Homo sapiens: one gene and its partners. The protein of the gene in region 2 purifies or fractionates together with the protein of the main gene of each other region. This does not show direct contact. Each region holds a gene or a part of one and is shown on either strand. Other genes may lie near its edges.

What was found.
Region 1: the proteins of ACKR2 (region 2) and ARL6IP5 purify together in Homo sapiens (affinity purification with mass spectrometry; one large-scale study listed by BioGRID and IntAct). This does not show direct contact.
Region 3: the proteins of ACKR2 (region 2) and VKORC1L1 purify together in Homo sapiens (affinity purification with mass spectrometry; one large-scale study listed by BioGRID and IntAct). This does not show direct contact.
Region 4: the proteins of ACKR2 (region 2) and PTDSS2 purify together in Homo sapiens (affinity purification with mass spectrometry; one large-scale study listed by BioGRID and IntAct). This does not show direct contact.
Region 5: the proteins of ACKR2 (region 2) and DGAT1 purify together in Homo sapiens (affinity purification with mass spectrometry; one large-scale study listed by BioGRID and IntAct). This does not show direct contact.
Region 6: the proteins of ACKR2 (region 2) and ATP12A purify together in Homo sapiens (affinity purification with mass spectrometry; one large-scale study listed by BioGRID and IntAct). This does not show direct contact.
Region 7: the proteins of ACKR2 (region 2) and SLC7A1 purify together in Homo sapiens (affinity purification with mass spectrometry; one large-scale study listed by BioGRID and IntAct). This does not show direct contact.

Annotation. Positions count from the first base shown.
Region 1 is NC_000003.12:69,087,937-69,091,436, reverse strand, and holds part of ARL6IP5 (PRA1 family protein 3), read right to left. Parts: intron 1-3,500. UniProt on the Homo sapiens protein: Regulates intracellular concentrations of taurine and glutamate. Negatively modulates SLC1A1/EAAC1 glutamate transport activity by decreasing its affinity for glutamate in a PKC activity-dependent manner.
Region 2 is NC_000003.12:42,815,945-42,819,444, reverse strand, and holds part of ACKR2 (atypical chemokine receptor 2), read right to left. Parts: intron 1-3,500.
Region 3 is NC_000007.14:65,949,574-65,953,073, reverse strand, and holds part of VKORC1L1 (vitamin K epoxide reductase complex subunit 1-like protein 1), read right to left. Parts: intron 1-3,500. UniProt on the Homo sapiens protein: Involved in vitamin K metabolism. Can reduce inactive vitamin K 2,3-epoxide to active vitamin K, and may contribute to vitamin K-mediated protection against oxidative stress.
Region 4 is NC_000011.10:456,779-460,278, reverse strand, and holds part of PTDSS2 (phosphatidylserine synthase 2), read right to left. Parts: intron 93-3,500; coding exon 1-92. UniProt on the Homo sapiens protein: Catalyzes a base-exchange reaction in which the polar head group of phosphatidylethanolamine (PE) or phosphatidylcholine (PC) is replaced by L-serine. Catalyzes the conversion of phosphatatidylethanolamine and does not act on phosphatidylcholine.
Region 5 is NC_000008.11:144,320,353-144,323,852, forward strand, and holds part of DGAT1 (diacylglycerol O-acyltransferase 1), read right to left. Parts: intron 1,057-3,500; coding exon 969-1,056; intron 1-968. UniProt on the Homo sapiens protein: Catalyzes the terminal and only committed step in triacylglycerol synthesis by using diacylglycerol and fatty acyl CoA as substrates. Highly expressed in epithelial cells of the small intestine and its activity is essential for the absorption of dietary fats.
Region 6 is NC_000013.11:24,700,908-24,704,407, reverse strand, and holds part of ATP12A (potassium-transporting ATPase alpha chain 2), read right to left. Parts: coding exon 3,486-3,500; intron 2,474-3,485; coding exon 2,337-2,473; intron 1-2,336. UniProt on the Homo sapiens protein: The catalytic subunit of a H(+)/K(+) ATPase and/or Na(+)/K(+) ATPase pump which transports K(+) ions in exchange for Na(+) and/or H(+) ions across the apical membrane of epithelial cells.
Region 7 is NC_000013.11:29,585,689-29,589,188, forward strand, and holds part of SLC7A1 (high affinity cationic amino acid transporter 1), read right to left. Parts: intron 1,105-3,500; exon of another isoform or gene 1,037-1,104; intron 1-1,036. UniProt on the Homo sapiens protein: High-affinity, low capacity permease involved in the transport of the cationic amino acids (arginine, lysine and ornithine) in non-hepatic tissues.

The DNA of each region.
Region 1 (3,500 bases), about 26 Mb from region 2:
TATAGTCCCAGCTACTTAAGATGCTGAGGCAGGAGGATCACCTGAGCCCAGGGAGGTAGAGGCTGTAGTGAGCCATGACTGCGCCACCATACTCCAGCCTGGGCAATAGAGTGAAACCCTGTCTCAAAATATATATATATGTATGTATATACACACACATATACACACATACACTGTCAGAGGTTATTTAATGAAAAGCAATCCTTATTAAAGATTTATATTTACTTATTTATTTTTTACACGGCGTCTCACTCTGTTACCCAGGCTGTAGTGCAGTGGCGTGCGTTCTTGGCTCATTGCAACCTCCGCCTCCCACGCTCAAAAGATCCTCCCACCTCAGCCTCCCAAGTAGCTGGGACCACAGATGCATGCCACCACGCCAGGCTAATTTTTTCTATTTTTGGTAGAGATGGGGTTTCGCCATGTTGCCCGGGCTGGTCTTAAACTCCTGAGCTTAGGTGATCTACCCGCCTCGGCCTCCCAAAGGGCTGGGATCACAGGCGTGAGCCATCATGTCCAGCCTAGATAAAGATTTTGAGATTAAAATGTTACTGTGTGTTGACAGACCTCTTAAAGTTCTGTATTCAGAAGAAACACATAAGCCATCAGAGGAAGACAGGTGCCAGCCTCAAATGCAAATAAATGGGCATCGAAGGGCAGGAGAATTCTGGGAGGATTTGGGAAGGCTGGTGGAGTTGTACTCCTGACTGTATCCTCAGGGCCTAGACAGTGTCTACCACATGGTAGGTGCTCAGTATTTGTTCAATGGAATAGAAGGATCTGAGCTGTGGGTTAGGATAGTAAAATTTAAAAAAACCTTTTTCCTGTCTACATACTCAATGCCTCCCCTATTCCCAACACCTGAGAGATTTGGAATTTGGAGTAATAATGTACAGGGGAGATCAGGTAAGTCAGGTTGAGAAGGATGTGTTTATGTAGGTGTGTATTTCTGTACACTTGCTATACTTGTATACAAATTAGTTATCATGTGTTCAGTGTGGTCTTGCTGCCTTTCCGTGAAGGCAGGAATCACAGCTGTCCTATTCTTCACTATCTCCTAGCAGTGTCTGAGAAGTTGGTAAGTGCTTCATACTCTTTGTTAATTGAATGAATGAAGCAACACAAATAAGAGTAATGTTGTAGAACTGGTGTTGAAGCTGACTAATCTCAAAAACATTTCCACTTGCTTTAGTATAAACAGACTGCAACTCATTCTATCTGCAATCATTTCAATAGATTCTGATCCAGAGCCTCCCAGGGTTGCCTTACGCTTTTTTTCCTCTACCAACTGGAAACTTGGTTCTTCATCTTTACAGCATTTAAAGGTACAAACAATACGAACATTTCATAATACCAGATGCTGGGAGCCACAGGCCTAGAACATATTACAGAGCCACCAAGCCACGTTCATTTTGAAAAGATTACATTAATGCTGTTTTCAAACTTATAATTACCAGCCTTCTAGAAACTCCTTACCATCTTGAGTAACTGAAAGCATAAAGTGGCAGCTGTCAATTCCACCCTCCTGCAACATCTCCATAGGCCAAATGATCAGGCCACATGGTGAGGAGTTACTTCAGCTGAGAAATCATGGGCTCATTCCTTCAGCAGCTACATGGTTCTATCTAAAGGGGGAGGCACAAATGTATATACATAAGAATACATGCAGCTCTCTTGCTGGAGAAGCAGCAGAGGCATTTTTATATGTTGCAAATTCTGTGTGTGGTTGGTGATTCTGAGGCCATACCAGAAAATATGAGTTCTAATGGCAGAAAATAATTTTTTTTTTTTTTTTTTTTAGACAGGGTTTCACTATGTTGCCCAGGCTAGTCTTAAACTCCTGGCCTTGAGCAATCCTCCCATCTCTGCCTCCCGAAGTGTTGGGATTACAGGTGTGAGCCACTATACCCATCCAGGAAAGAACTTTTCAGAATAAGACAGCAATAGCATTGCAAATATTGTAAGAGTCAGGGATGCAGTTGAATTTGGTTAATCAAGAGCTTTAGAAAATTTGCAATATGGCTTAATGGAAAAAATATTTCACTTCCTATTATTAGCAGCTTTAGTTCCAATTAGCCTGTGACCTCGAGCTTTTACATTTCAGAAGTTACGGGGTTCAAGAGGATCAGTATTTCTCCTAGGGGTGTATAATCACAATCACTTAGGAAGTTAGAGAAAAAGAAAAAAACAACAGATGCCTGGACCCTGCCAAGAACTATACATTTTGAATCACGGAAGGTGACACCTGGGCATATAGGTATATTTATTTAAATTTTCTTTTGAGCCAGACCAATCCAGTGCCTCTCAGATTTTAATGTACCTATGAATCATCTGAGACTTTTGTTAAAATGTAGATTCTAACCCAGTAGGTCTGAAATGGGGCCTGAGATGCTTCACTTCTGACAAGCTCTCAGGCGAAAGATGCTGCTGTTCCATGGCTCACACACTGAACAGAGTTCTCCAGCTCAAATCATTTGGCATTCCATTAAGCACAAAGAAGTTTTCATCCACAACTAGAATGTATCACACGCTTAGTACTTAAATTGCAAGTGTCATTAGGTGTTGCCTTTGTTTTTCACTTTGAAGATCAAGGTAGAGACTTCTATTGTTGTGTGTGATGTGAAAAGAATATCTTAATCCCAAAACGTCTCACATCAAGGATGCAGAAGGTAAGCTATGGCAACTTCGATCTTAGACACTTTTCCTTCTTGATGTAAAGGATCCAAAGGCATTTCCAGCAAAACGCAAGTTTCCTAGCCTGTTATTCATGCTATTCCTTTTAAATAATTCAATCTCTTCTGATCAGAAGTTTAAACACAGATTTATCTCTATCCTAATCCCTCTTAATCTCCGTCTTGGTATGGGCAGTTTTTTCCAGTGTTTCTGGATCTAGATAGTATTTGCTATGTTCTTCCCTCACCCTTCCTGAAATCTTGAAGAGGAGGCCCTCTCTATCCTCATCTAAGCCAGTTTCCAACATTGGAGAGCTGAGGCTAGAGCACTCCTACAATGCCCTTGAGGCTCTCCTCACCAGCAGGGGATGGAACCATTGTTGAACACTCTTTTATCCAGGTCACATTTTCACATATACTCTACCAAGATATTCTGAGAAACTAGAGAGAAGTCTGTGGAGGATCCAGATGAACAGCTGCCAGCACTGCTCTGACCTACCCATCTACTAGCATCACCGAAAGAGGATAGTTCTCTTTAGAATGAGAAGTGTTCTGGAATCAAGGACGCTCCCTAACTCTGAAGATGTTTGGTTTCTTCCTTGTGACTCATAGTAAGACAGAACAGTAGTTAAGAGCACAAGCCTAAGTTTGTGACTTTGAGTAAATCATTTAACCTCTCTGAGCCTCAGGTTTAATGATAAAAAAAAAGTAACAGTTTTTTAAAATTGGGTTCTATGACATAATGCAGGTAAAATACTTTGCAAGGTACCTGACACACAGAGCACTCAATAAATATTTATATTATTAAATGATAAAGAAAGAAAAGAG
Region 2 (3,500 bases):
GAGCCAGGAAACAGTGAGGGAGCCCAGCTCTTTTCTACTGGAAAGAGCTGTTTGCCTGTGGTCAAAAGAAAGCTCTTAGTTCCAGTGATCAATGTTGTTTTGTGTAATCTAGTCCCATACTTATACAAATATAGATTATAAAAACAAATCAATCTTTTTAGTTACATAGAATTACATAAAATTATGAGTTTCTAACTTTAAAAATCAGGATATAACCCACATAAAACTGAATATTATAAAGACCAAAGTCTTCCTACTCATTCTCTACTAAAAGACATATTTAATAACAAAATATATGCAAGATAAAGTTATACAGACTTTTAAGAGGTGATGGTTGTGTTGTTAATCTCAAATTCAAAAGTCTTCAGAACAAGTAAAAGAGGCAGGAGAGCTTCGGCTTAGTCAGGAAAATTCTGTGCCCACCATCCCACCTGCCCCCCATTTCCCCCACCAACACCCCAGCAAAGAACTAACAGAAAGAACAAAAAGGAATTTGAGGAGCTGCAAAGAATCCAAGATCCATTTTTTAGTGACAACCTGACAGCATTTTGTTTGAAAATGTTGTCAGTAAAAACAATCTATGGGCCAGGTATGGTGGCTCACATCTGTAATCCCAACACTTTAGGAGGCCGAGCCGGGCAGATCACCTGAGGTCAGGAGTTCAAGACCAGTCTGATCAACATGGCGAAACCTTGTCGCTACTAAAAATACAAAAATTAGCTGGGTGTGGTGGCACTTGCCTGTAATCACAGCTACTCTGGAGGCAGAGACAGGAGAATTGCTTGAACCCGAGAGATGGAGGTTGCAGTGAGCCGAGATCGCGCCACTGCACTCTAGCCTGGGTGACAGAGTGAGACTCCGTCTCAAAAAAATTATGCCAATGTCTTTCCTTATTTGATCTGTTTAAGTGCTTTCCTGTGTAAATGATCCTCTCAACATTACTGCTTGTAGGAAGCAGCCAATTCTGGGCCAGTTTGCTCAGAGCACATCACTATGAAAGTGAAAACTCAGTCTCATGTCTGCTGTAGCTCTTCCCCTAGATCTTCATAGAGCTGACCCCTGGTCATTCAGTTCTCTGCTCAGATGTCACTGGCTGGATGTGAAGAAAGGAGGAAGTGGCATCAGGGATTGACCCAGCTTTCATGTTTGGTGAATGGGATGGACAGTTGTTCCATCAAACACGTCAGGGAATTTAGGAGAAAGTGCAGGCTTGTGCGGAGAGAGATGTAGAGAGCAGAGAAGAGGGGAGGAGAGAGATGGTTAACACGGCTCATTTATGGACACATGGAGTCTGTGGAATACCAAAGTGAAGACGTCCAACACAGTTGAATAGATAGCTCTGGAACACAGGCAAGAAGTGTGGCAGACAGAGGAGAGAAAAGAACATCAGCATACAGATGAGAATAAAAAACCATAAAAGTACATGAGATTACTCTAAGAGAAGGGCAGAGAGTAAGAAGGAAAGAGAGCACAGAACCCTAGAGCACACCAATATTTAAGGGACACAGGAAATAAATTCAGTCACTGTAACTAAGAAAGAATGACCAGACTGGAAGGAGAATGAGAAGAAGAGTGTCAATGGAAGATTCATAATGTCAAATATGATAGAAGAGTCAAGTAAGATATGGGCTGAGAAACTGAAATATGTCCATTGAATTATGTCCTTTACTATTGTTGTTTCAGTAGCGTGACAAGAATGGAAACCAGTGGGTTGAGAGAGCTGGGTTGGGGGGAAGATGTGGGATGATATGTACACTTTTTTCTCCTAAACTGAGGAGAAAGAAAAGAGAGCAATAGCTGGAGAAAGGATGAAGAATCTAGGAAGGAATCTTTTTTAAATGGAAGAGTATGAGAAGCCTGGATGCAGGGGCGAGGAGAGGCTGAAATTACAGGTGAGAGAGCAAAAAGCTGACAGATTCAATGGCAAAAAATGATGGAATCCAGAGCATAGGGTTTGATGGGTGTTCAGTGGGAGGAGGGTACCCAAAACCAGAAGAAACGACTGATGGAGACGCAGGTAGGGTAAGAGAGGAGGAAGCTGAGAGAATTTTTCAATGCTCTCTGTGAAAACGGTTAGTGGGGATATCAGGGGAATGGAAGTCGAGGCTGAACAAGAATAAATGAGAGAATTGATTTAGAGAAGGGGTCAGAAAACTTCACGGTCTAAAAAAGAAAAGTGACTTGCTTGAGGTTGCATTGCTGGTTAATGCTTAAGAAGATAGCAGCAAGAGGAAGGGGCCTGGTTTGGTGAGAGGATCTAACATGTACTGAGGCTCTATTACATCCCAAGCACTCTTCTTGGTGCCTTATGTATGGTCACTTAGATCACACAATGCTATCCTATAAGGCATATACTTACTAGTATCCCCATTGTGTTGATGAAAAATGTGAGGCTAAATAACGTGTTCAAGGTCATAATGTCCATAAGCATTTAAGCTGTTATTCAAAGCCGTGTCTTTTGACTTCAGGCCTGGTAGCAATCCAGGGGCCCAAAGCCAGTGCCTTTTCCACTCTACCAAATTTTTTTTTCATTAGTACTTGTTAAGTGTCCTGCTGTCCCCAACAGCAATAAAAAATACTGAGTGCTAGACAGGCATGGTGGCTCACGTCTGTAATCCCAGCACTTTGGGAGGCTGAGGTGGGCAGATCACCTGAGGTAAGGAGTTTGAGACCAGCCTGGCCAACGTGGTGAAACCCTGTCTCTACTAAAAATAGAAAAAAATAGCCAGGTGTGGTGGCAAACACCTGTAATCCCAGCTACTCGGGAGGCTGAGGCATGAGAATTACTTGAACCCATGAGGCAGAGGTTTCAGTGAGCTGAGATTGCACACTGCACTCCAGCCTGGGTGACAAAGCAAGACTCTACCTTAAAAAAAAAAAAAATGAACTGAGTGCCTCAGTTCATTGACTTTTTCCACTGAGTTTCCTCAGCGGAAAAGTCAATTCAAGACTAAAATATTTAAAGTATAATATTTTTGTTCACTACAAAAATTATCACTACATAAACACACAAATCCTGCTGCCACTTTGGTTGCTAATGGGAACCAGTTGATGAAACCAGCAATATAAAAGGTAAGACACTATGTAAACTAAAGAGATCAAAGGTGGTTTCTAGCTCCTAGCTTCTTCTTTGCTGAAGTACACCATATTGATGGTGAGCATCTTATATTTATGATTTTTATGGAAACCCTCAGTAACCAAAAGACATTTTAAAATGCAAAGTACACACACACACACACACACACACACACACACGAAACTATCAATTGTGTTTATAGGTTAGCTGAGTAGTATCTACAGGAACACACAAAAAAACCCACAGAATGTCGTAACAATTAACACATATAACACTTACTATATGCCAGTTAATGTTGGGGTTTTATATATCATTTAACACTCCCCAGAGTCCTACTAAGTAGGACCTATTATTGTACAAATGAAGAAACAGAGGTACAAGATGATTAATTAACTTGCTCAGTGTCACATAACTAGTAAGCAGC
Region 3 (3,500 bases), on a different chromosome or scaffold from region 2:
TGTAATGCTAGGACTTTGGGAGGCTAAGGCAGGCAGATCATTTGAGGTCAGGAATTTGAGACCAGCCTGGCCAACATGGTGAAAGCCCCTCTCTACTAAAAAGTACAAGAGAAAAAAAAAATTAGCTGGGCATGGTATTGCACGCTTGCAACCCCAGCTACAAGGGAGGCTGAGGCACGAGAATTACTTGAACCCAGGAGGCGGAGGTTGCAGTGAGATAAGATTGCACCAGTGGACTCCAGCCTGGGCGACAGAGTCTTAACTCTGTCTCAAAAAAAAAAAAAAAAAAAAAAAAGGAAAAAAAAAGGCACCTGAATTCTGGACTCTATCTTCACATGTATTGTTTTTAATTTCTTATAGGCAACAGTATAGAGAATATGTGCATTTATTTTCAAGGACAGAGAAGGCAGAGCATGTTAAACTACCCTCCTACCCAATGACTCATGGATAAGGATAACAGAAACAGGAACAAAATAACAGGTGGGAGCAGGTATAAAGAAGTCAGTTAAAGAGCTGAAATCCTGGGCCCTGTTGGCAAAAAAAAAAATGCAACAAGAAGACGCCTGTGGGCCGGCTGCCGCACAGCCACGGGCCTAGATGCTTTCATAGGGCACTTCAAGACTAAGGTGCTGCTGAATTACTTGTTGCAGGGACTAGCAAATCTGGCCAGCTACCTGCTTTTGTAAATAAAGTTTTATTGGCACCCAGCCATGCTCATTCATTTATGTAATGTCATTCATTACGTAATGTCTGTGACTGCTTTCATACTAGAAGAGTTGAGTGGCTGCGGCAACTGGCAAAGCCTATTTTCTGCCAGGCCCTTTACTGAAAAAGTTTGCTGACTTCACCTATGCTAAACAACTAACATTTCGAAATTAATGTGGTCACAATTTTACCTAAGAAAGTTAACTTCAGAATGATACGGGCAACTTATTTCTTCCTCTATGCCTTTCTTTTCTCAACTGTAAAATTGGGATAACAATCATGCCTACTTCTTAAGACTGCTGGGCAATTAAATGAGCTGAGATAATGCAGGATTAAAGCACTTAGAATAGTGTATAAATACCAGATATCCATTAAATGCTACTGTAATGCAGCTAGGTACGTTTGGCTCAGGGTCAAATTCCCAGTGGAATTTAAAATGTGCTGTAACTCTAAATAAATGATGGTACAATTATGCAATGGATTATTCTGCAGCTGTAGAAAAGAATGAAGACATTTAATATACTGATATGGAAAAATCACCATGATATATTCATCAGGCAAAAAAAGAAAATGCAAGCTGCAGAACAGTGGGTATAGCATCTGCCTTTTATATTTTAAAAAGGAGGAAAATTAAGATTGTGTATTTGTACTTTCTCGTATATGCATAAAGAGACAATAACAAGCTACCAGTCGGGGCTGAGGAGCACTGGAAACCAGGCATAAAGGGAAGGGGTGGGATAGATTTTTCTTTGTGTAACATTTTATATATGTATATATATATATATTTTTTTTTTCCTGAAGGAGTCTCGCTCTGTCACCGAGGCTGGAGTGCAATGGTGCGACATTAGCTCACTGCAACCTCTGTCTCCCAGGTTCAAACAATTCTCCTGCCTCAGCCTCCCAAGTAGCTGGGATTACAGGTGTGCGGCACCACACCTGGCTAATTTTTGTATTTTTAGTAGAGATGGGGTTTCACCATGTTGGCCAGGCTGGTCTTGAACTCCTGACCTCGTGATCCACCCATCTTGGCCTCCCAAAATGCTGGAATTATTGGCATGAGCCACTGTGCCCGGTCCTTTTTAAAAACTTTTGAACCACGTGAATGGATTACCTATGAAAAAATTAAATTAAAAATGCTGTGTCTCAAACAGGTTAGAAGGGAGTACAGATGCTGTGCTCTGGAAATTGCTAGGTTAGTTCAAATGTGCCTCCCATGAAGACACCAACATTAAAAGGCACGTGAAGCATCTAAATGCGAGTCAAAAAATGCGAATGAAAAAACACATGTGATAAATATGATTTAAAATATGTATATACCATGGCATTAAATTAATGGTAAAACAAAAATTTGGCTGTCACACCTCTATCTTCAAGAGTTAATCTAGTCAAAGGCTGTTCTTAGGTTCTTTGCCTTTAAAGGAAAACATCTTGCATCTGGGCTTATACTTCATATTCTTCTCTAGAAATCCAGCAAAATGGAAACATGCAGAATACCTAGTGAAATTTCTCCCTCCTCCCCAACCACCCGACCCTTTTCTATGCATTTACATGCATGTATACAAACACGTTTATCCTATACCTATTATACCAAAATTTGCTTTTTTCACTAAATAGTGTCTTTATCTTTCTAGGATATAAACATAGATCTCCTTTTTCCTTTAATGGCTACATAGTATTTCATAGTATTTTCTAATTTATTCAACCATTATCTATTTGTAACCTACCTCCATTTTTTTTTTGCTATTTTACACTGTACTGCTATGAATATCCTTGTGCACACATCTTTCTACTTCTGCAAGATAAATACATAGATATGGAACTGGGCAAACTCGACAGAACTACTGAGGATGATTTAGATTTATAATTTGCCTCATAACAAATCAATTTCAGATAGAAGAGTTACATGTATTTTTAATGAACCAAATCAGAAGAGCTGACAGGTAATGGAATATTAACAATTAAAATACAAAAGCATTGGTATGCAACAAGATCTACAAAAAAGAAGAAAAATAAAATGCAAAGGCATCAACAGATGGATTTAACTCTAAAAGTATAAAAACTTAATACAATACAAATTCATAACACTAACAAAAAAGGATAAAGAATGCATAAAATGTTTGTAACACATATAAAAATGTACTAGTATCGGGATCCAATAACTAAATGCTAAATGGGCAATAAAAGGAAATTAAAAAGAGTAAAAATTAAAGTAATAGGTACTAATGTGTAACTATTAGCAATTTTTCCAGGTGAAGATTATCGTTACAATTAAAAAAAAAAGAAATTTTACAAAGCATGTCTTAAAAATAAAGACCGCTGGAGCTTCAGGGAAACCAAAGAACTGAGGGAAAAGCAAATTGGTAACACTGATTAAAATTGAAAATATCTGTGTTTTTTGATACTATGCTTGGAAATTTATTTTGTGGAGATAATTCAAAGGAAGGAAGGAGCAGGAGGTCTTTAAACAAAGTTGATCACTGCAGCATTATTTGGAAGTAAAAGGAGTGAAACCTAGATGTTAACAATAACACTTAGGATAAACGACACTATGTTGAAACACAGTTCACATTAAATTATTAGTTTTTGAGACAGCGTCTTGCTCTGACCCCCAGGCTGGAGTGCAGTGGTGTGATCTCGGCTCCCTGCAACCTCCATCTCTTGGACTCAAGTGATTCTCTCACCTCAGCCTTTCAAGTAGCTGGGACTACAGGTGTGTGCCACCACACCTGGCTAATTTTTGTATTTTCTACAGAGACAGAGTCTCACCATGTTGCTCCTGGGCTCAAGTAATCTGC
Region 4 (3,500 bases), on a different chromosome or scaffold from region 2:
TGTAGGCCGTGTCCTGAGGTGTTTCCTCCAGCAGCGTCACATAGCCAAGCGTACAGGTGAGGATGAAGAGCACGGTTAAGGTGTGGGCTCGCCTGAAATCCAAAAACGCATAAGCATGGTGTCAGAGCTTGGGCAGCATTGCTAAATACTCACGTAACAGGCCCCAAATCCTCTCTACGTCAAGGAGAGGGCTTAAACTCCACTCTCCAACTCCCAACCAGCAACTGGCTGCGAGTCCCTAGCTGGGTAACTCCGAGATGACCCTGCGTCTGCTGGCCAGTCAGGGCTGAGACCAGCCCCCAGGAGGCTGGACAGGAAGAGCCCCGTGTTCCTGGGAAGCTGAAGGCCGCTGCTCAGAGGGCACATGCTGCCACTGGCGTCCAGGGCAGGTATCTGCTATTAAGAGCAACTGGACACGTAAAACACGCGCTTTTCACTGCGCAAGACAAGCCGAGACAACAACTCTTTGGGTTCATGAAATAACATCTGAGATTCAGTGCAGCAGCCCAAGACACCAAGAGCTGAGAAGGGGCCTGAGCAGAGGCCTGCAGAGTGACCGCTGCTAGCTGGAGTGAGCCACGAGCCGTGGGTCTGCCCGTCCTCTGGCCTGTCAGAGCCCAGACGTGGGAGGAGGAGGCAGGGCGCTCCCTTTGCAGTCTTGTCCTGTCCCATCGCTGGTGGAAAAGCCCACAACCAGCCTAGTATCAGAACTGGGGGCCACCAGACCCCAGCCACTGCCTGTGCCAGACACTCGCCTGAGACCCCCTCTGCATGACCATCTGCAAATGGAGGCAGAGACCTAGTTCCTACATCCATCGGAGTGTGTCCTCGGAGAGATGATGCACCCCTCTGTGCCTCAGTTTCCTCATGTCTAACCCAGGTCCTACATCCACCAGAGTGTGTCCTCACGTCTAACCCAGGTCCTACATCCACCGGAGTGTGTCCTCACGTCTAACCCAGGTCCGACATCCACCGGAGTGTGTCCTCACGTCTAACCCAGGTCCGACATCCACCGGAGTGTGTCCTCACGTCTAACCCAGGTCCGACATCCACCGGAGTGTGTCCTCACGTCTAACCCAGGTCCGACATCCACCGGAGTGTGTCCTCACGTCTAACCCAGGTCCGACATCCACCGGAGTGTGTCCTCACGTCTAACCCAGGTCCGACATCCACCGGAGTGTCCCCTCACGTCTAACCCAGGTCCTACATTCACCGGAGTGTGTCCTCACGTCTAACCCAGGTCCTACATCCACTGGAGTGTGTCCTTGGAGAGATGATGCACCCCTCCGTGCCTCAGTTTCCTCATATCTAAATGGGGAAGCTTCTGACTTCCAAGGACATCATGAAAATTAAGTGAACAATGCACTTAAAGCATGTTGCCCAGGACTTGCCTCCATGAAATGTAAACTATTTGTGCCCTAAAGAAATGAAAAGGCAAGTCACAAACTGGGAGAAAATATTCACAATACATATATCTGATAAAACTTTGTAGGCTGCACGCGTCTGTAGTCCCAACGCTTTGGGAGGCTGAGACAAGAGGATTGCTTGAGCCCAGGCGTTCAGGACCAGACTGGGTAACACAGTGAGACCCCATCTCTATAAAAAATTAGCCAGGCGTGGTGGCAGGCACCTGTAGTCCCAGCTACTCGGGAGGTGGCAGATTCGCTTAAGCCCAGGTTGAGGCTGCAGTGCGCTAGGATGATTGTGCCACTGCACTCTAGCCTGGGAGACAGAGCAAGATCTGTCTCAAAAAAAAAAAAAAAAAAAAAAATCAGGCCAGGCGCGGTGGCTCACGCCTATAATCCCAGCACTTTGGGAGGCCGAGGCGGGCGGATCACGAGGTCAGGAGATCGAGACCATCCTGGCTAACACGGTGAAACCCCATCTCTACTAAAAATACAAAAAATTAGCCGGGTGTGGTGGGTGGGCGCCTGTAGTCCCAGCTACTCGGGAGGCTGAGGCAGGAGAATGGCGTGAACCCGGGAGGCGGAGCCTGCAGTGAGCCGAGATCGCGCCACTGCACTCCAGCCTGGGCGACAGAGCGAGACTCAATCTCAAAAAAAAAAAAGAAAAAAAATACTTTTTATCCAGAATTTATAAAGAACTCATACAGCTCAATAAACAATTTAATGAAAAAATAGGCAAAAAATTGAACAGACACTTCACAAGGAAAACATACAAATGGCCAATAAGCACATGAACAAACGAGGAGCAGCACTGGTCACCGTGAAAGCAAATCCAAGCCAGGACACATCAGTACACATCCGCTGGAACGGCTGAAATTAAAAGCATCACAAATCCAAGCCACGACACAGCATCAGTGCACATCTGCTGGAACGGCTGAAATTAAGAACATCACAATGCAGAGTGCTGGTGAGGTCTCGGAGCAAGATGCTCACGCACTGCAGGTGGGACTGCAAAACGGCACAGAAAAGTGAGGCCTATGCTACGTCTGCTATCCAGCCAGCCACATACTCCCAAACGTGGGCCTGAGACAGATGAAAACACAGGTCCAGTCAAAGACACACTCCCAAACGTGGGCCTGAGACAGATGAAAACACAGGTCCAGTCAAAGACTTACATGCAGATGTTTCAGGTATAATAACCTAAAACGGGAAACAAACCAAAACTCTATCAGTGGAGGAAACACTGTGGTCCCTCCGACCAGCGGAGCATGGCTCAGCACTCAGAGGAATGTGCTGCTGGCAACGACCTCAACGTGGATAGATCTCAAAGACACGCCCCTTGGGAGGCCCAGGCAGGAGGACTGTTTTGGGCCAGGAGCTCAAGACCAGCCGGGGCAACATCATGAACATCGTGAGATCCCGTCTCAAAAGATAAAAAAAGAAAAAGAAAAACACGCTACAGACGCCAGGCACAAAAGAAACCTCCCATCTGCTGTCACCCACACACGACTCAAGGAAATGAGTTTGCATCCACGAAAAGCAGACTGGAGCGGAGACACGGGCCTTCCGGATGATGGAATGTTCTGGTGTGAGCGTGGTTGTGGCGGTGCATGGGCGTGTCACCTGCACGTGGGTGCTGCACTGAACGCACCCACACCTGGACTTAGCCGATTTCATGAAGAGCCAGGGTGGAGCTGCAGGACTGCAGGTGGAGGCTCCAGGCTGGAACTTTCTGTATTTTTTGTGCAGATGGGGTCTTGCCATGTGGGTCAGGTTGGATTTTTTTGTATTTTTTGTAGAGACGGGGTCTTGCCATGTTTTCCAGGCTGGTCTCAAACTCATGAACTCAAGGGATCTGCCCACCTTGGCCTCCCAAAGTGTTGGGATTACAGGCATGAAAGTGAATTCTTCTGCCATATTTTACAATACTAGGCATTTAAGACAACCAGAGGTAAATAAAAGTTTCATTGTGACTATCAACCACCTTTTTCTTTAGATACATTTGCATTTGAGTCCTAAGCCATGAGGAAACCGCAGGGAACCTCAGCCTTCCTGCTGAGCTCCACACCGTGGGGCCCTTCAGTACTGAGAGAC
Region 5 (3,500 bases), on a different chromosome or scaffold from region 2:
GGCCCACTGTCCTCCTGCCTGGCCAGCTTCTCAGCCACCAGGACTCGTGGGCCTCCACAGCTGGCCACCCCCAGGGAACCTTCTAGGACCATGGGCGGTGGGGGATGTGGATGTGCGTGGAGCCCCTTCCACGTGGGTAGCCACAGGAGCAGCACCCAAGGCCAGAGATAGACACGCCTGGGTGAAGGTCAAAGGCCTCGAGCCACATCAGCCCTGAGTTGGGGAGGCTGGGCCCAGATAGCCCTTGTCCCCGACCTGCCCTGCAGGTGCCCCTTTGAGCCCTAGACTCCAACTACTTCTGGGGTGGGGCTGGCAGCCCCACCCCACGAAGTGCCAGTGGGAACCAGGCCCAGAGGTAGCAGGCCTTGGACGTGGCACAGGGCTCCATCTAATCACCTTCCTGGGGGGCTCCTAGGACCCACAGCTGAGGGAAGGGGCCAGGAGGACTGCAGAGTGGTGGCCAGGCCTGCAGGGCTCCATACCCACAGAGGCCATGTGGCGTAGCACAGGAAGCTCTTCTCACATCCCCTGCCAGAGAGGCCTTGTGTCCACAGAGCATGCAGTCCACTCTCCCACCAGCCCAGGGCAAGACCCCCTCCACCCTGCCCTCCCTGGAGGCCCTGCACCCCTCAGGCCCAGCTCACAACACACAGGCTCCAGCCAGGCACTGTTCGGCCTCCCCACGCCCACACCACATCTGCAGGGCTCTCCTGGGATCCAATGGGAAGCAGCAAGTATGTGGTGCATGGGCACCCAAGTGACCACAGCAGGGGCAGCCACTGCCACTCCCCTCCCCAACAGTCCAGTGCTGGCAGCCACATGGAGGTGCAGCCTGCTCCACACACCCCAGCCCACAGGGGCTCCAGCCTGGACACCCTGGGTGACAGAGCCTGTTCTCAGGCAAAGGCCAGCCTGGGACAGAGCCCCACCTGGACCTAGACCCGCTCCCGACACCATGTCCCACTCACCAGCATCACCACACACCAGTTCAGGATGCCACGGTAGTTGCTGAAGCCACTGTCAGAGCTGAATAAAGAATCCTGCAGGCGATGGCACCTGACAGAGCACAACACAAGCACCCCCTGAGTGGGCACCAGCAGGGCAGCGCCACCCCCGCAGGATCCAGGCCCCCACCCCAGTGTCCTCGTCTGCCCTCAGGCCCCACTCCTTATTTACAACCAGGAGGAGAAGCCAGGCAGAGCCACACTGTGGCCTCAAGACCTACAGTGGGCAAAGCTCTCCGGACCCCCAGAGCCTGCACCTCCAGGCAGCGGGACGAGCATGTCAGGGTCAGAAGCAAGCCCAGCTGGCCCTGCCCGGACTGGACCTACATGGAGCTTGGACACTCCAGGCCTCACTCTCCAGAGGCCTCTGGCCACTGCCATGTACTCTGGCTGTGGACTAGCACTGGGGCCACAAGCAGGGTCCAACCTGGGGATGGACCAGGGGGCACTGCCCAGCACTGTGGGGACCAAGTGGTGAGGGTTGAGTCCACCCTATTCAGTTGGCCCATCCCAGCACCCGGGAGCTAAGGGGTCCCCACACTTGGACGTGCAGGCTCAAACTGGCAAAGGCAGGCCAGGCGCCAGCCACACACCAGCCTGACATGCACTTTCCCAGAGGCAGGGATCCAGCCCTCGTGTGCCGGTGTAGCCTCCACTTGTTTGTGATGTGTGCCCAGGCTGAGGGGGCTGAAAGGAACCCACCCGGGGCTAGGTGCCTGCTGGCTGAGAGGCTTCCAACAGAGGCAGGCACCCACCCATGATCTCCCAACCAGCGCTGGAGGGGCACAGGCAGACCCTGCCTGGTCCTCAGCATACTGCACAGGTGGAAGAGGGCACCCAGCCCAATAGAGGGACTGCCATATAGCTAGGACAAGGACAGCAAGAGCTTGGCCAGGCCCCCACACGTCCTAGGAAGCAGTGCTGGCTCATATACACTAGCTGCAGGCCCGCCTCACCCCCCATCTGCCGTGCCACTGGGACACCACACACAGCATTGAGCAAGTCCTCAACTTTGTAAGAGGAGAGGCCAGAGCCTCCCTTTCCCTCCCGCACACGCACATCTGCCCCTCAGAGCCCCTAGGCAGGGAGAGTGGGCCTGAGAGCCATGGCAGGAGCCCCATGAGGCAGACGCCCTCAGGGCACCCAAGGCAAGCTGGCTAGGATTGGGGTCGGCAGTCAGACGGCCCTGCCCAGGAGGCAAAGGGCCAGGGAGGCCGAGAGGCAATGCCAACAAGCCCAACCTTTGCTCCCCAAGACCAAGGTTGGTGCAACACATGCCCCATCTACACCTACACAGTTCCTGGACAAGTCTACACTAGTCCCCAAGACCCCCAGGCAGGGAGGATGCTCACACCTTTCCCTCTGCCCATCTAGACTGGAACACAGGGGCAGGCAGCTCCACCCAGCCCCTGCCTCTCCCAGCTCCAGCCTGAGCGCCCTGCATCCACCCACCAGGTCCATCCTGGGCCATGCAGTGAGGCTGTGGTCTCCACCAGAGCCTCCCTCCTCCCCAAGTTGGCAGCTGTCTTCCCAACTGACCACCGCCCTTGGCTCATCTCCCCAGCCTACTCCACTCACTGCCTGCCCACAACCAGGAGGCTGGGTGTAGACACCGCCAGAGCCCCAGCACCGTGACGGGAGCAGGGGCACGAGGCCCAACTGCCCAGCAGCCTCTCTGGGCTGTCTGTCTGGGGGCCTCTCCACTGCCCCCTCTTCCCCAAGTTCGAGCCCATTTGTTTTCAGCAGAACAATCCCAAGCCTCAGGGTTGGCCTTCTTGTACCACGACCTACCAACCACAGCTGTTTCACAGCAGTATGACCCCTGCCCCCTTTGAGCCACCAAGGACACCATGCTGGCTTTATCCATGCCCATCTCCAAGATGAAAACAGGAGTCGGGAAAGGGTGGTGCTTCCCAAAGCTCACTGCAGACAATCCTACACAAGCTTTCTCAGGGGCCCCTTGACAGGCTTCCAAGGCCTTCCTCAACCCAGCCACAGCCTCACCTCAGGCCCTTCACAGGCCTGACCAGCCCCACCCAGAGGCAGCACCCCCACTGCGCTACCCCTACCCCTCACAGGCCCCCATGAGGAGGAAGCCCCAGTCCACCAGTGCCCACAGAGCTCCAAGCAGTCAGTGCGGCCAGCAGCATGTGGGCTACAGGGCAGGCTGCATGGAACGGCATGGGGAGGTGGGATCTGCCCCTGTGCCTAGAGCACCTTTATCACCCTCTCACTGACTGGAGGATCTGCCCAAGCCTCTGCACCTTCCAGCTGTCCCTACACCCACTCCCTAGTCCAAGAAGACTCGGAGCAGCCTGCCCTCCCTCCTGCAGCCCCCAGGCCCACCCAGCCAGCAGGATCCTCTCAGTCTCACGGCAACACTGAGACCTTGGCACATGCCCACCCGCCACCCTGTCTCCAGGTTCAAAGTGTGCCCAAAGGCACAGGTCCCAGTGAGTCCCACACTTGGGGCCCACACAGTGCAGCTCCAGGGCC
Region 6 (3,500 bases), on a different chromosome or scaffold from region 2:
AACAAATCTTCCTAAGTAGGGAAGGAAGGGCAAATATAAAAAAGAAGCAATTGAGAAGATGCAGGAATAAGGTATCTTATATACAACTTTCATTAAAAATTGCTAAAATGGGCCAGGCGCAGTGGCTTACGCCTGTAATCTCTACACTCTGGGAAGCCAAGGCGAGCAGAACCCTTGCAGTCAGGAGTTAAAGACCAGCCTGGCCAACATCGTGAAACCCCGTCTCTACTAAAAGTACAAAAACTAGCCGGGTGTGGTGGCACATGCCTGTAACCCCAGCTACTCAGGAGGCTGAGGCAGGAGAATTGCTTGAACCCAGGAGGTGGAGGCTGCAATGAGATTTCACCACTGCACTCCACACTCCAGCCTAGGCAACAGAGAAAGACTCCATCTCAAAAAAAAAAAAATCTGCTAAAATTTTAAATTAAAGTCCCAGCTACTTGGGAGGCTGAGAGGGGAGGATCCCTTGAACCCAGGAGGTGGAGGCTGCAATGAGATTTCACCACTGCACTCCACACTCCAGCCTAGGCAACAGAGAAAGACTCCATCTCAAAAAAAAAAAAATCTGCTAAAATGAAGCTGGGTGCAGTGACACAAGCCTGTAGTCCCAGCTACTTGGGAGGCTGAGAGGGGAGGATCCCTTGAACCCAGGAGGTCGAGGCTGCAGTGAGCTATGATCACACCATTGCACTCCAGCCTGGGTGATCTGACAGGACACCTTGTATCTAAAAAAAGAAGACTCGGCTGGTCTGAAGGTAGTAGTGAATTAGCTCAACTGATTGTTCACAGTCAGTTACAGATCAAACTTCTACTCTTTCCCCTCTTCTCACTACTGCACTTGACTACTCTTAAAAAAATTTCTTTTAGTCCAGGTGTGGTGGCTCACGCCTGTAAGCCCAGCACTTTGGGAGGCTAAGGTGGGTGGATCACTTGAGGTCAGGAGTTTGAGACCAGCCTGGCCAACATGGCAAAGCCCCGTCTCTACTAAAAATACAAAATTAGCCAGGCATGGTGGCGGGCGCCTGTAATCCCAGCTATTCAGGAGGCTGAGGCAGGAGAATCGCTTGAACCCAGGAGGTGGAGATTGCAGTGAGCTGAGATCACACCACTGCATTACAGCGTGGGTGACAGAGAGAGACTCTGTCTAAATAAACAAACAAACAAACAAACAAAATTTGTTTAAAATTCTAAAGTGAAAAAAAGTATAATCCGATTATCTTACAAAACCAAACAAATAAACAAGCCCCAAAGTTGTTTTCATAGAGGGATGTTATGTATACTAAAGGGCACTGCAAGACTCTTAGACTTCAGGTACTGCTGCTGTGCCCAGAGGCGGGAACCCTGGTTGGTTGTCTAACGTGGTAATTTGTTATGACCTGACAGCTGTGTGTCCCTAAAAGACCTAAGTGCTTGGGGAAACTGAAGAGGTGCATTGGTCTTTCCCTCATCTCCCGCATGCGTGAAAACATAACCCAGCTAATGAACATTACTTCTCAACCTGAGAATTCGGAGTCTTTGACTCATGGAGACCAGGCACAGTCCAGGCCACTCTCCTGCATGCCCAGCTCCCTAGCCTTGTGTGGCTCCCTCATTACACTGGCCACATCATTGTTAGCTTTGTTTGTGTCTCCTTGGCTCGATGGAAAGATTCCCCAACGGTGTGGATAGTATTGTTCAGTTTGCTACTGTAGTTCCAGGTCTTGCCTGGTATATAGTTGGCACGCAGTAAATACTTGTTGAAAGAACAAATACATGAGTGAATGTACAGTTGGATGAACATGATTAAAAGAATAAGGATAAACATGATTAAAAGAATTAGGAGAAACAAGGAAAAAAACTTTCCTTAGGAAGCTTCCATTCTATCTATTACCAAATAAAAAAGAAGGGTGTGTTTACATAGCTACACGTTATGAAACCGGGTGGATAAATACCCAAGATGCTTACCAAGGAGGGTGCATGAAACAACCCACAGGGTTCTTACGATTCCAAATTATGCAACTGCATCTATGGCAAGTAATTTCACATAAACCCTTTGTTTCAGTTTTTCTTATTCTAAATTGGGCACATAGGTTTTGTGCCCAGGGCACACTGGATTTTGAAATTTCAAACAAGGAACACATAAAGGGTCATTTCATGGTATCAATACTGTGCCTGGCACATATTAGCTGCTCAGTGAAATTAGAGTGAATACATGGATATGCAAATAATAGCTCAAACAAGCCTAGCATAACTCTGAGAGCAAAAAGCTGATTTGTTCCAAGTAGTGCAGCTCTTTAGAGCCAGTGGGGCCCCATGGGTATAAACTGGAATTTTTACTATGCTGCTCCTGTGCTTACCGTTTGTTAACTTGCTCCACAGCAATGTTGAGGCGATGTGCAATGTCTTCCACTGTTTCACTGTTGGCTGAAATGATCCCCACACTCTTGGCAATAGCTTTGGCTGTGATGGGATGATCACCAGTAACCATAATAACCTAGAGCAAAGACAACGAGAAGGCCCACGGGTAATGAAGAACTCGGTTGGCCAAAGTGGGGATGGTTCAGTAATACCTACTCTGTAGTGCCCTGGGAGAACGTGGTTGGTGATTACAGTGGCAGCTCTGGATCTACGAGACAACTGTCTTTGGAGGAAACACTAATCCCATTGGGTCTACCCTTGCTCCTAAGCTTCATACGCTTCCTCCTCTGACATGAAAGGAAGCCCTTCCCCTTTGATGCCACTTTATTTGTGAAAGGGCTGGTGAGTGTCTACTTGGGGGTAGCCCCATGTTACTTCAACAGTCTTAATATTAACCTAGTAATGATGAACATGGATTATGGGGGCTGAGCCTCAAGACTGAGTAATAAAGCCTTTTTTCTTTCTTTTTTTCTTTTCTTTTCTTTCTTTCTTTTTTTTTTTTTTTTTTTGAGACAGAGTTTCACTCTTGTTGCCCAAGCTGGAGTGCAATGGTGTGATCTCGGCTCACTGCAACCTCTGCCTCCTGGATTCAAGAGATTCTCCTGCCTCAGCCTCCCGAGTAGCTGGGATTACAGGTGTGTGCCACCACATCTGGCTAATTTTTTTGTATTTTTAGTAGAAACGGGGTTTCACCATGTTGGCCATGGCTGGTCTGGAACTCCTGACCTCAGATGATCCGCCTGCCTCAGCTTCCCAAAGTGCTGGGATTTCAGGCATGAGCCACTGCGCCCAGCCAATAAAGCCTTTTAGTATCTACCATGGACTAGGGCGAGATATGGTCACTTCAAGGCACTAGGAGATTCTTCTCATTGCATTTACTGTTTATGTGGTTCATTCCACATAGACACAATCATTTTCTTTTTGTGGGACAGTTTCAGTAACCTTAGCACAGTGAAACTAGAAATAAAATAGGAATTATGATATTTACTTGAAGACACCTAAATACTGACCATCTGCTATGAAAACCATTATTAGAAAGGAACACGACATAAAGAAAGAACTTCTTGAGTCAGGAAAATAACTCCCACCTTGATCCCTGCACT
Region 7 (3,500 bases), on a different chromosome or scaffold from region 2:
TGACAGTACAGAAGAGGCAGCCAACAGGGCTCTGAATCCCAAGTGCCTGAAGGAGGAATGAAACAATCTCACCAGAGAGGAAAGGACAGCTGTGACAGTCACCCTCCCTGAACAAGACCACTGAGACCAGGGATGGACATCTTCCAAGCTAACCTACAGTGCAGGTAAGAATGGGAAGCTGCATTTTTAGATAACTATCCATTAGAAACCAGGACGACATATGAACAGTGTATCTTGGTAGCCTTGGATGCTCAAGGATGAGAAACCCTGGGCAAACCAGGCAAAAATTCTCAACCACAGGACAGGACAAACTGGCCCAAAGGTTCCTTAGTTACAGAGTAAGTAAGAAGAAGCTGTAATTCTACCCCATCTGGGAACATTAGGAAAAAGACAACATCTGATACTCTGATTTCAGTAGAACTGGATTCTTCCAAAAATATAAATGTCAAAGTCACCCATTCACAGTATAATTTGTACCAAAGTGCAAAATGGGGTATGTATGTGTGCCAAAGAACAAAATCTACCAGAACTGAGCTGCTAGGGCAAAATTACAACAGAAACTTAAAATAATATATTGTCCCATCCACCTGCCAAAACATTAGCTCAAAGACATTCCTCCTTTAAATACAGTTTTACTAATTATAAGAATAGTCATTCAATAAATATTTCTTGAGCACTATTTTAGGTGCCACAAACACTGCAGTGAGAAAAACAAAGTCCAATTTTTCCAGTCTTTTCTTTCTGTGCAAATACATATATCTCATTAAGCTAACACGGAACATGGGAAATTGCACCCAGATGGTTTCACTTTTAACATTAAAGTTTCTCCCACAAAATCAAATGTTCTTTGAAAACGCCATTCTTACTGGCTACATAGTATTCTAACATGGAAATGGTATCATGATTTACTGAAAGACACTCCCAAATGCTTACCACAAGATAAAAACACAAAGGAGAGACATCATTAAATAGAACGTTAGACCTAGATTCAGAGCCTTAAGGAAAAAGAAGAAAAAAAAGGAAAATACAATCTTACAAATCTCAGAGACCCCACTATTTTCCTCCACAGGGATGAATATTCACATCCACACCACTGGCCACATCAAGCTCTAATTTGTGCATCTCCCTTTATAAGCCCCACTCCCTCTTTGATCGAAGAGAACATTGTCTGCACAGAACAATACGTTTTCATTTCAATTTCCCTTCTTTTCAGGAAAGGAAATGTTTGCACTTCAAAGGGTTTCTTTGAAGAGTAGCCCTTCAGCTCTGGCCCGTCCAGGTTGGGCGTTACGTGGACTCAGCAGGGTGTGTGGAGTCTGGGCGGCTGCCCACCGAAGTCACTCTCAAGGCCAGCTCCTTCAAGGAGAGGGTCTGGGGCCGGAGTAGAAAAAACAAACACATGGAAAAATACTCAAGGCTTTTGATCATGACCTTCAGAGGCCCATTTTCACACATAACATAGACTTACAGCTCAGGGAAACTGAGGTACAAATGATGGGGAGCTGAGGACAATGACGTAGTAGCTTCTAAGAACAAAATCCTTCCAGAAACCAGACTCGCTTAGCAAAGACCCGTTCTGGGCCAGGAAAGGGGAGAGCCACTCTCAGTTCCAGCTGTTATGGCGAATGGACCACCTAAGCGGACAAAGCAGGGAAGCGAGATCCAAACTTCACTACCTGCACCAGTTTTAAAACCTTTCCCTAGGAACTTTTGAGAAGCACAGTCATTGGCAAACAGCAAACTTCACATGGTAAAATTTCACATTTTATTTCTTCCGTAGCCCACTGGTAGGGGCCAAGAGGCTCATTAAAAGGCAAGTCTAACAACCACATGAAGCACCCAAGAGCTCACTGATATGGGGCCAGTGCTGTTTCCCTCAATCACGCTCCAGGCCCCATCCTTAACCTCTGCCAAGTCCAGGAAGCAAGGGGTATAGACCAGACAAGAGTGGGCCTGCAACATTTCTTTTCAAGTCTCAAACAAGTTCTGGATATTTATTAACGATCTCCACCCTTCCCCACCTGGAGGATATGCACCACAAAGGCACCACCAAGGCTGGTTAAGTCTGCCTGCTCGGTGGGCACCTGCCCAAGGGGTGGGCAGGAGCATGAAAGACCGTCAGCTCCAGACAGGGGCCGGCTCCTCCCACAGCCCCAGGACTTGGCTGCGGGGCTCCTGACTAGTGTGTGGGTGGTGGAGGGATCACGAGTCTGTGTGGCCAGGTCACCAGAGCTGAAGGAGCTGAGAAAGTCTTTCCACCACCTTTCTGGTCGATCACTCAGCCTCTGAGCTGGAATTATGAATGGGTTTTATTTTCTCCTTCTTTTAATTTTCTGTAGTTTCCAAATTTTCCACAACAAACATTCTAACTTTTAGAAACACTTTTTCTTAAAAAGGCTTATGAGGTAGAAAATCACACCTCTTTTGAAAGAACCCCCACACTGCAAAACTCCTTCCCCAAAAATACTTAGCTATAAAGGACATTATGTGGACGACTGCAAGTCAAATATGGACTGTGGCCTAGATCGCAGGGTTGTATTAATGTTAAATTTCCTGACTTTGCTATTGTACCATGGTTATGTGAGAGAAGAGCCTTGTTCTTAGGAAATATACACTGAAGTATAGAGGGCAAATAAAATGGCATGACGTCTTCAGCTGACTCTCAAATGGTTCAGAAAAAAATGTATGTGTCTGTGTGCATGTGAGTTTGTGTGGGGTGGAGAGAGAATAGAAGGAGGCAAAACATAACCCACCTGTGCATCTGAGAGACGGTACCCAGGAGTTCCTTGCACTCCTGCAAATTTTCTTTTCTTTTCTTTCTTTTTTTTTTTTTGAGACAGTATCTCACTCTGTTACCCAGGCTGGAGTGCAGTGGTGTGATCTCGGCTCCCTGCAACCTCCGCCTCCCGGGTTCAAGTGATTCCTGTGTCTCAGCCTCCCGAGTAGCTGCAACTATAGGCATGCGCCACCAACACCAGGCTAACTTTTGTATTTTTCGTAGACATGAGTTTCACCATGTTGGCCAGGGCTGGTCTCAAACTCCTGGCCTCAAGTGATCTGTTTGCCTCAGCCTCCCAAAGTGCTGGGATTACAGGCGTGAGCCACCATGCCTGGCCTCTGCAACTTTTCTTTAAGTTTGAAATGTTATCCAAAAACTGCTGAAAAAGAAAAGGGGAAAAGGAGAAGGGCAAAAGGGATGAGGGAAGAGTTCTCCTAACTCTAACTGCCAGTCTTTCCCAGGGGCCTTCACTGGGTCCCAGAAACTGCACCCTAACGCCCCCAGCTCCTAGACCAGGCCTCATCCCAAGGGAGGGCAGGAGGTGTCCCTGACACTGTGGAAAAGCTGCGGGCCAGGAAGACTCTCCCAAGTCACTTTGGGGAAGACGGGCCCTTGCTGCAGGCCCTGGTGTGGACAGCTCCTGCCCCAGCCTCTCTGAGAGTGTTAAAGATGCATCCTCTAAGGAAAGGGGGCACCTCCGCAAGATATTGTAGAAATCAGC